2 separate regions of the Homo sapiens genome follow, and region 1 is linked to region 2. The links come from fine-mapping of genetic effects on gene expression. A gene starts in region 2. The other region holds a variant in brackets. All regions are shown on one strand. Distances are from middle to middle. Region 1 overlaps SLC2A7 (solute carrier family 2 member 7). Region 2 holds the start of SLC2A7 (solute carrier family 2 member 7).

The links. PIP is the estimated chance that this variant, and not a neighbour inherited with it, causes the effect.
Region 1: its variant is fine-mapped to the expression of SLC2A7 in prostate (GTEx, PIP above 0.99).

The regions. Positions count from the first base shown.
Region 1 is chr1:8,999,583-9,003,968 of GRCh38, reverse strand. It overlaps SLC2A7 (solute carrier family 2 member 7), which reads left to right. Exons shown (of 12, transcript NM_207420.3): 12 at 451-996. The coding sequence ends at 669. Among named protein-coding and RNA genes, the nearest start is that of SLC2A7, 25 kb to the left of the region's middle. The variant T/G (reference allele first, on the strand shown) is at 1,894.
Region 2 is chr1:9,024,002-9,028,387 of GRCh38, reverse strand. SLC2A7 (solute carrier family 2 member 7) reads left to right here and starts at 1,965. Exons shown (of 12, transcript NM_207420.3): 1 at 1,965-2,093; 2 at 3,314-3,412. The coding sequence starts at 2,043.

The DNA of each region.
Region 1 (4,386 bases), 24 kb after region 2:
GAGTGAAACAAAACTGGCTGCCAAGCAACTCCTTTATGGACTCACAAAGGCCTCGACCAGCATTGGTTATTTGTTGTTTGTTTTGGGGTTTTTGTTTTTGTTTTTGTTTTTTTGAGACAGTCACGCTCTGTTGCCCAGGCTGGAGTGCAGTAGCGCGATCTTGGCTCACTGCAACCTCTACCTCCTGGGTTCAAGCGATTCTCCTGCCTCAGACTCCCAAGTAGCTGGGATTACAGGTGTACACCACCATGCTCAGCTAATTTTTGTATTTTTAATAGAGACAGGGTTTCATCATGTTGGCCAGGTTGGTCTCAAACTCCTGACCTCAGGTGATCCACCTGTCTTGGCCTCCCAAAGTGCTGGGATTACAGGCATGAGCCAACGTGCTCAGCTGAATCAGCACTGTTGCCTTTCTCTGCCCCCTCCTGTCTTTCTCGTCTCCTGGTCTAGGAGGCCATCGGTGCCTACAGTTTCATCATCTTTGCCGGAATCTGCCTCCTCACTGCGATTTACATCTACGTGGTTATTCCGGAGACCAAGGGCAAAACATTTGTGGAGATAAACCGCATTTTTGCCAAGAGAAACAGGGTGAAGCTTCCAGAGGAGAAAGAAGAAACCATTGATGCTGGGCCTCCCACAGCCTCTCCTGCCAAGGAAACTTCCTTTTAGTGGCCCTGCATGAAGGACGGGAGCCCATATTCAAGGCTTCCTTCTATGACAATGGGCCTCCCGGCCCCAGGCTCTGGGGAGGATAATAGCACGGAGGCTTTTGTCGTTGCCCCCATTTAACTTAATTATGGATATTATTAAATACCCACAACAATGCATATTTAGCTGAGAAGTTCCAAGGCTAGCCATTGAGGAATGACCTGGAGGAAGGGGCCGGCACGTGAATTTTGATTGGTTAAGACTCGATTTTCCGATTCTACATTGGCACCAAAATTTAAATGATGTATAGATGCACTTTTTTAAAGTAAAACTTTTCAAGTTCCACAATTGCTATGGATACCCGAGCTGCCGTCATTGCATCAATTAAGGAGTCCAAGGCTCTGAATGCCATTGCCTTCCTGGCGACGTGGCTTCCTTTCTCCACCCCGTGGCTGCAGGTTGCACCGTGAATCCCAGCCTGCGTGCCCAGCTCTGTCCTGTCGATCACAGGGTGAAGGGGGCCAGCCCCTCGACACCTGTGGGTATTTCTCGTCAGGTGGGATGAGAGACTGAAAAAAGAAATAAGACACAGAGACAAAGTATAGAGAAAGAACAGTGGGCCCAGGGGACCGGCGCTCAGCATACGGAGGACCCTCACCAGTACTGGTCTCTGAGTTCCCTCAGTATTTATTGATCACTATCTCTACTGTCTTGGTGAGGGGGATGTGGCAGGACTATAGAGTAATGGTGGGGAGAGGGTCAGCAGGAAAACATGTGAGCAAAGGCTCTGTGTCATAAATAAGTTTAAGGAAAGGTGCTGTGCCTTGATGTGCACATAGGCCAGAGTTATGTTTGACTTTACACAAACATCTCAGTGTAGTAAAGAGCAGTATTGCCGCCAGCATGTCTCACCTCCAGTCATAAGGCAGTTTTCTCCTATCTCAGTAAACAGAACGTACGCTCGGGTTTTATACCGAGACATTCCGTTCCCAGGGACGAGCAGGAGACAGATGCCTTCCTCTTACCTCAATTGCAAAGAGGCCTTCCTCTTTCACTAATCCTCCTCGGCACAGACCCTTTACGGGTGTCGGGCTGGGGGACGGTCAGGTCTTTCCCCTCCCACGAGGCCATATCTCAGGCCATCTCCATGGGGGGAAGCCTTAGACAATACCCAGGCTTTCTTGGGCAGAGGTCCCTGTGGCCTTCCGCAGTGCATTGTGTCCCTGGGTACTCGACAATGGAGAA[T/G]GGCGATGACTTTTACCAAGCACACTGCCTGCAAACACATTTTTAACAAGGCGCATCCTGCACAGCCCTAAGCCATTAAACCTTGAGTCAACACAGCACATGTTTCTGCGAGCACAGGGTTGGGGCTAGGGTTACAGATTAACAGCATCTCAAGGCAGAAGAATTTTTCTTAGTACAGAACAAAATGGAGTTTCTTCTGTCTACTTCTTTCTACATAGACACAGTAGCAGTCTGATCTCTCATTCTTCCCCCCACAACAGGGGCCACAGGCAAGGGAGTAAGACCATTCCCAGTCCACTCTCTCTCCTCCTCTCCCTCCAATGGGGAAGTTGATATCTTCCTTGAAAACAAGGTGCAGTGCCGGGCGTGGTGACTCACACCTGTAAACCCAGCACTTTGGGAGGCTGAAGCGAGTAGATCACCTGAGCTCAGGAGTTCGAGACCAGCCTGGGCAACACAATGAAACCCCGTCTCTACTGAAAATACAAAAATTGGCCAGTGCGGTCATGTGCGCCTATAGTCCCAGCTGCTTGGGAGGCTGAGGCAGGAGAATTGCTTGAGCCCGAGAGGCAGAGGTTGCAATGAGCCATAATGCCACTGCATTCCAGCCTGGGTGACAGAGTGAGACCCTGTCTAAAAAAAAAAAAAAAAAAAAATAGCACCTGCATTCAGGCCTGACCATGTCACTCCCTGCTGGAATCCTAGGCTGATTCTATCACTCGAGATGATAAGGCTGGAACCGTATTGTCATAACGTGGGTTTCCTGCCACCACCCCAAGTACTTCCAATCCTCTGTGCCTTTCTCCCTGGCGTGCTTTCATGTGCCTTCCCTCCAAACGATCACAGCCCTACCCAGCCTTCAAAACCCAGCTCGAATGAGCCTGAAGAACCTCTCCTGTCCTGTCCAGCGGGAGGTCCTCTCACCTCTGGGCCCTGGAATCACCGTGCATCTTTTTCCATTGGCATGCTTGTCACTTTGCATATTAATTATAGGTTTACCTGTTGCCCTGTAGTGTCCAAACTTAGTGGCTTAAAACAATGACAGCTATTGTGACTCCTGGTTCCTGTGGGTCAGGAATTCAGATAGGACTCGGTGGGAATGGCTTCTCTCTGCCCTTTGACATCTGGGGCTTCAGCTGGAAGACTCGGAGGCCCAGGAGCAGAGCTGTCTAGAGGCTTCTTCCGCTTCTGATCGCTGGTGCTGGAGGGCAGTGAAACTGACACTCAGCCTGGGCTCCTCACACCTGGGGCACTGGATTCCTGGGGGTGATGGGGCAGGGGGAGACAGAGTCACACACACACACACACACACACACACACACACACACACCAGGAAAGTCACATGCTGTTTGCTAGATGCTAGTCAGTCACTCCGGCCCACAATAGTGGCAGGGGGGATGGTTGTGTTGAGAATTAGACCACCCCTTTTATTTTATTTTTATTTATTTATTTATTTTGAGACAGAGTCTTGCTCTGTTGCCCAGGCTGGAGTGCAGTGGCACAATCTCGGCTCACTGCAACCTCTGCCTCCCAGATTCAAGCGATTCAGCTGCCTCAGCCTCCCAAATAGCTGGGATTACAGGTGCGCACCACCACACCCAGCTAATTTTTGTATTTTTAGTAGAGATGGGGTTTTACCATGTTGGCCAGGCTGGTTTTGAACTCCCAACCTCAGGTGATCCATCTGTCTCGGCCTCCCAAAGTGCTGGGATTACAGGCATGAGCCACCGTGCCCAGCCTAGACCACCCCTTTTAGAGACAGGGTCTCGCTCTGTTGTCCAGGCTGGAGTGCAGTGGCAATCATGGCTCACTGCAGCCTGGAACTTCTTGGCTCAAGCAATCCTCCCACCTCAGCCTCCCAAAGCACTGAAGATTACAGGAGTCAGCCCCCGCACCTGGCCCCTTTTGAATAGAGGAGTGTCAAAAAAATTTGCAGAGATAGTTTAAACCCACCTCAATATCTTTCTTTGGGTCTCACATTTTTCACCAATTCGGTCCTTAAGTTACTTAAGGTCTTTTAGTTTTACTTTGCATGTCTCTAAATTGAGGCTGATAATCTTTGCCTCACATAAATCGGGTGGAAATGCTTGGTAAGTACGAAGCATTTCACAAAGGTCAGGGTTCATCTTCATGGCTGCTATTAGAAATGGATCTGACAGCTGCGTCCCCTGCACGCTCATCCCAGAGTCTCCATTGGGCCCATTCTCTGTCTGGATCTGTACAGAGCCCTGCACCAACGACTGAGTCCCCAGCAGGTCCAAGGTGTGGCTCCAGCAGGTCCTGTGGCTGAGGCAGCCCAGGTGTCTTCATCCAGGAATTCCAGGAGTCCATGTGATTCCTCCCCCGAATAAGAATGCCTCCCTCCTGGGTCACACACCCTGCTGGAGTTCTGTTCCCACAGCCTTTCCTGTGGTCCACAGAAGGGAGTGTCCAGGTCTCATAGTAAGCCAGTTAGTGGTATGAGAGCAAATCAGTGAAGAAGCCATCACCAGA
Region 2 (4,386 bases):
CAGCAACACTTTGTCTCAAAAAAAAAAAAAAAGAGAGAGAGAGAGAAAATACCTACAACATAGTCAGGAGCAGGAGCAGGATAAACATAAATAAGGACCTTTCATTCTCTCAGTCTTGTCATTTACCCACCTGTTACCACCCATGGGCAAACACATTTTCCCCCAGGTATCCTTTTTTTTTTTTTTTTTTTTTTTGAAACAGGTTCTCGCTCTATCACCCAGGCTGGAGTGCAGTGGTGTGATCATGCCTCACTGCAGCCTCAGCCTCCTGTTTTCCAGTGATCCTCCTACCTCAGCCTCCCAAGTAGCTGGGACCACGGGGGCATGCCACCATGCCCAGCTGATTTTTGTATTTTTGGTAGAGATGAGGTTTCACCATGTTGCCCTGGCTGGTCTTGAACTCCTGAGCTCAAGCAATCCTCCACCCACTCAGCCTCTCATTGTGCTGTGCTTATAGGCATGAACCACCGCACCCTGGCCTTCCCCAGGTATACTATGTGTATTCTGCTTTGATCACTTCTCTTAAAGGTCATGTTAATTAAAAAACATGTTAATGTTTCCATGTTCCCACATTTCATAATTATCCTTTGAAACAGAAGTCTGGCATTCCAATCAATTAGTTACTCCTAATTTATTCAATCATTCTCTACTTTAAAAAAAAAATGCTAGTAGAAATGATTCTGAAATAAGCACCTTTGTCCAATATTTTATTGACTTATTTAACACTATTTAGTGTAATTAGAAATAATAACTGTGTTTTTCTGAAAGTGTTTAATTTGTTCTTTCCCCCAAATGGACAATTAGTCCAAATGCACAAGAGGAGGCATATATGAAGAACCTAGGAACACACAGAAAGGAACAGCAAACACTGGGATCTACTTCCGGCTGGAGGGTGGGAGGAGGGAGAGGAGCAGCAAACAAACACTGGGAAGTGGGCTTAATACCTGGGTGATGAAATAATCTGTACAACAAACCCCCGTGGCACGAGTTTACCTATGTAACAAACCTTCACATATACCCTGAACCTAAAATAAAAGTTAAAAAAAAAAAAAAAGCCAGGTGCGGTGGCTCATGCCTGTAAGCCCAGCACTTTGGGAGGCCAAGGCAGGCGGATCACTAGAGGTCAGGAGTTCTAGACCAGCCTGGCCAACATGGTGAAACCTCATCTCTACTAAAAACACACAAAAAAAGGCTGGGTACGGTGGCTCACGCCTGTAATCCCAGCACTTTGGGAGGCCGAGGCGGGCAGATCATGAAGTCAGGAGATCCAGGCCATCCTGGCTAACACGGTGAAACCCCGTCTCTACTAAAAATACAAAAAAAAAATTAGCCAGGCATGGTGGCAGGCACCTGTGGTCCCAGCTACTCAGGAGGCTGAGACAGGAGAATGGCGTGAACCCGGGAGGCAGAGCTTGCAGTGAGCTGAGATTGCGCCACCGCACTCCAGCCTGGGCGACAAAGCGAGACTCCACCTCAAAAAAAAAAAAAAAAAAAAAAAAAAGCTGGGTGTGGCGGCACGTGCCTATAATCCCGGCTACTTGGGAAGCTAAGGCAGGAGAATAGCTTGAGCCCAGGAAGCCGAGGTTGCAGTGAGCTGAGATTGCGCCACTGCACTCCAGCCTGGGCAACAAAGGAAGACCCTGTCTCAAAAAAAAAAGAGGCATACATGGAAAAATGACACAGAAAAAGCATCCTAGATCCAGGTCACAGCCTCACTGGGTCTCTGAAAGTCCTCATTTCTGCGGACCAATGTCAGGCAATGTTTTTTCTCTCTCCTTGGTGCAACTAGGGAGCTTTCGGCTTGGGGCTTGGTGGGTGCAAAGACGAAATTCGTGCTGTGTATGATTTGTGCACTGGCAACGTGTGTCTTATCAACATTTCCAAGGAGAATTTGCTCCTGGGGAAAGTCAGCAGGGTCCAGAGAGCAAAAGGATCATAAAGCCAGGTAGGCCCAGGGGAGAAACAGCCGGTCTTTAGGTGGCTGGCGCAGAGCAGGTGTCACTTGGGAGGTAGAGCACACCTGTTCTCCCACCTGAACAAGGATGGAGAACAAAGAGGCGGGAACCCCTCCACCCATTCCATCCAGGGAGGGGGTAAGTGCCAAGACTAGGAACCTGTCACTGTCCCTCTCCCACCAGCTGTGCAGACCTGTGGAGGGAGGTGAAGGCCGTGGAATGCTTTTAGCAAGGAGCGGGTAGCGTGCTTCCTTTTTCTTCAGGATAACCAGGCCTGGGAGAGCCATGTGGAGAAGCAGCTATGCTCAAACCTCATGGCTCAGACATGGGCCAGGGTGGCTGAGCGAATGCTGGGAGAGCGGATGGTGCTGGAGATGCCTCTCTCCCTTCCACCCCTGCTCCCCTCCGCTTCCCCTACCCTTAAAGATCGAGGGGAGATGGCCTCTGAAGAATGCCCGAATCCTGCCCTTCTGTCTGGTTGTTCCTGGATGTGCAGAGCTACGGGCTGTGGGCAGCCAGGCAGCTAAGTGTGAGGGTTGGGGTGAGGACATGTGGAACAGGAGTGAGGGGTGGAGGGGGCAGTGGGGAGGGGGCATGCACCAGGGCCTTGGCTCTAGGACATGGTCAGAGACCCTGCCCACCTGCTCCTCAGACTTTGGCCCTCAGGCCAGTTCCCCTCCAAGCTGCCCTGGGTGTTGTGGCAACCATGGAAAGCCTGGCCCTGAGCACAGGCGACTGCCGGGATTTTCCTAAGGGCCTGTTCTAGAGGCAGAGGCAAGCAATGAGTCCCTCTGTCTGGGATGCTCTTCCCCCCGATGCTTACACAGCTGCTCCCTCTCATCCATTCTGGTCCCGGCTCAAAGGGCGCCTGCTCAGAGAGGCCTTCCCTGCCCTGCCCACCCTACTGAACACAGTCTCTCATTCCTCACAGGCTGCTACCCCACCCATCACCCTATTTTATTGTCCTCACAGCATTCTAGCTATTTGGAATTATCATCTTTGTCTTTCTTGGACGGGGTGGGCTCCCCTCACTAGAAAGTGAGCTTCTTAAAGGCAGTGCTTTGCTGGGCCTTTTTCCTAAAGCATCCCCTACTTCACACTTGGCCTCCAGGGCCTAGTACAGGGCCAGGCACGTAGCAGATGCTCAGATACATCCTCAAGGAGGGAATGAATGCGTGCAGAGACCTCAGCCCCCAAAAGCCCCAGCCCTGCGCCACCTCCTCCTCTTTTCCGGGGGCACGGCCTGGGATCCCCCATCCCCCACTTCCAGCCCAGGCTGGAGGGAGGTGGAGGCCCAGCCACTCCACTTCCCGAGGCCCAAGCCCACAGCGTCCCGACCTTGGACTTGTCTCCTACAGCGGCTCCAGCCGACGCTGTTGCTGGCGACACTGAGCGCGGCCTTTGGCTCAGCCTTCCAGTACGGCTACAACCTCTCTGTGGTCAACACGCCGCACAAGGTGGGCACAAGGTGGGCACAAGGTGGGCCGGGCAGCAGCTGACCGGGGTCGTGGGTGGAAGGTAGCCGCCATCTTCCTCCGTGGAGGCTGCCATCTTGCCTGTAGGAGGCACCATCTTGCCTTTGGGAGCAGCCAGCTTGCCCTAGTACCCTGGATGCTCACCCCTGGAGACCAGGGCGTGGCAGGAGGTGTTTCCCCCTGGAGTGTCGTCCTTTCCGGGCACATTGGGATGCTGGGGGACCTGTTCCATTTTCCAGCCCAGTCTTTTTGGGCCTCAGGTCCCACTGCTCTCACCTTGGGTAGGCCCCTTGTTGATTGGAAAGAGAATGGGGTCAAAGATTGAACTCTGTGGCATTTAGGGATTGGGGCAAAGGGGAAAAAAGGAAAAAGAGAAGGGGCCCTTGCAGGTGTGGAAGACCCTGAGGGCAGAATGTCCCCAAAACCTAGTAAAGGATGAGAGTCAAGGAGGGAGGGACAGCCTGTGCTGATGAGCTCAGATGAGGACTGAGAACTGACTACAGGCTTGACCTTGGTATACGTCTATGCTTACGCTTGTATACATATATTAGCATGTCTACAGACACTGTATTACATTTGTTTGTGTATTACGTATATATACATATATTAGTGTACTTACAATTATTACCATGGATGGAACCTCCGAGTCAAGCAATGTACCATCACTTAATCACATTTAATGCTAACACATTCTTTATAAGGTACATCTTGTTTCCATAACTGATGAGGAAATTAAGGTTTCTGGAGGTTCTGTAACTTGCCTGAAGTCACACAATTAGTAAAAATATTTCCTGGGCTGGGAGCGGTGGCTCACGCCTGCAATCCCAGCACTTTGGGAGGCTGAGGTGGGTGGATCACCTGATCACCTGAAATCAGGAGTTCAAGACCAGCCTGGCCAACATGGTGAAACCTCATCTCTACTAAAAATCCAAAAATTAGCCAGGCATGGTGGCGGG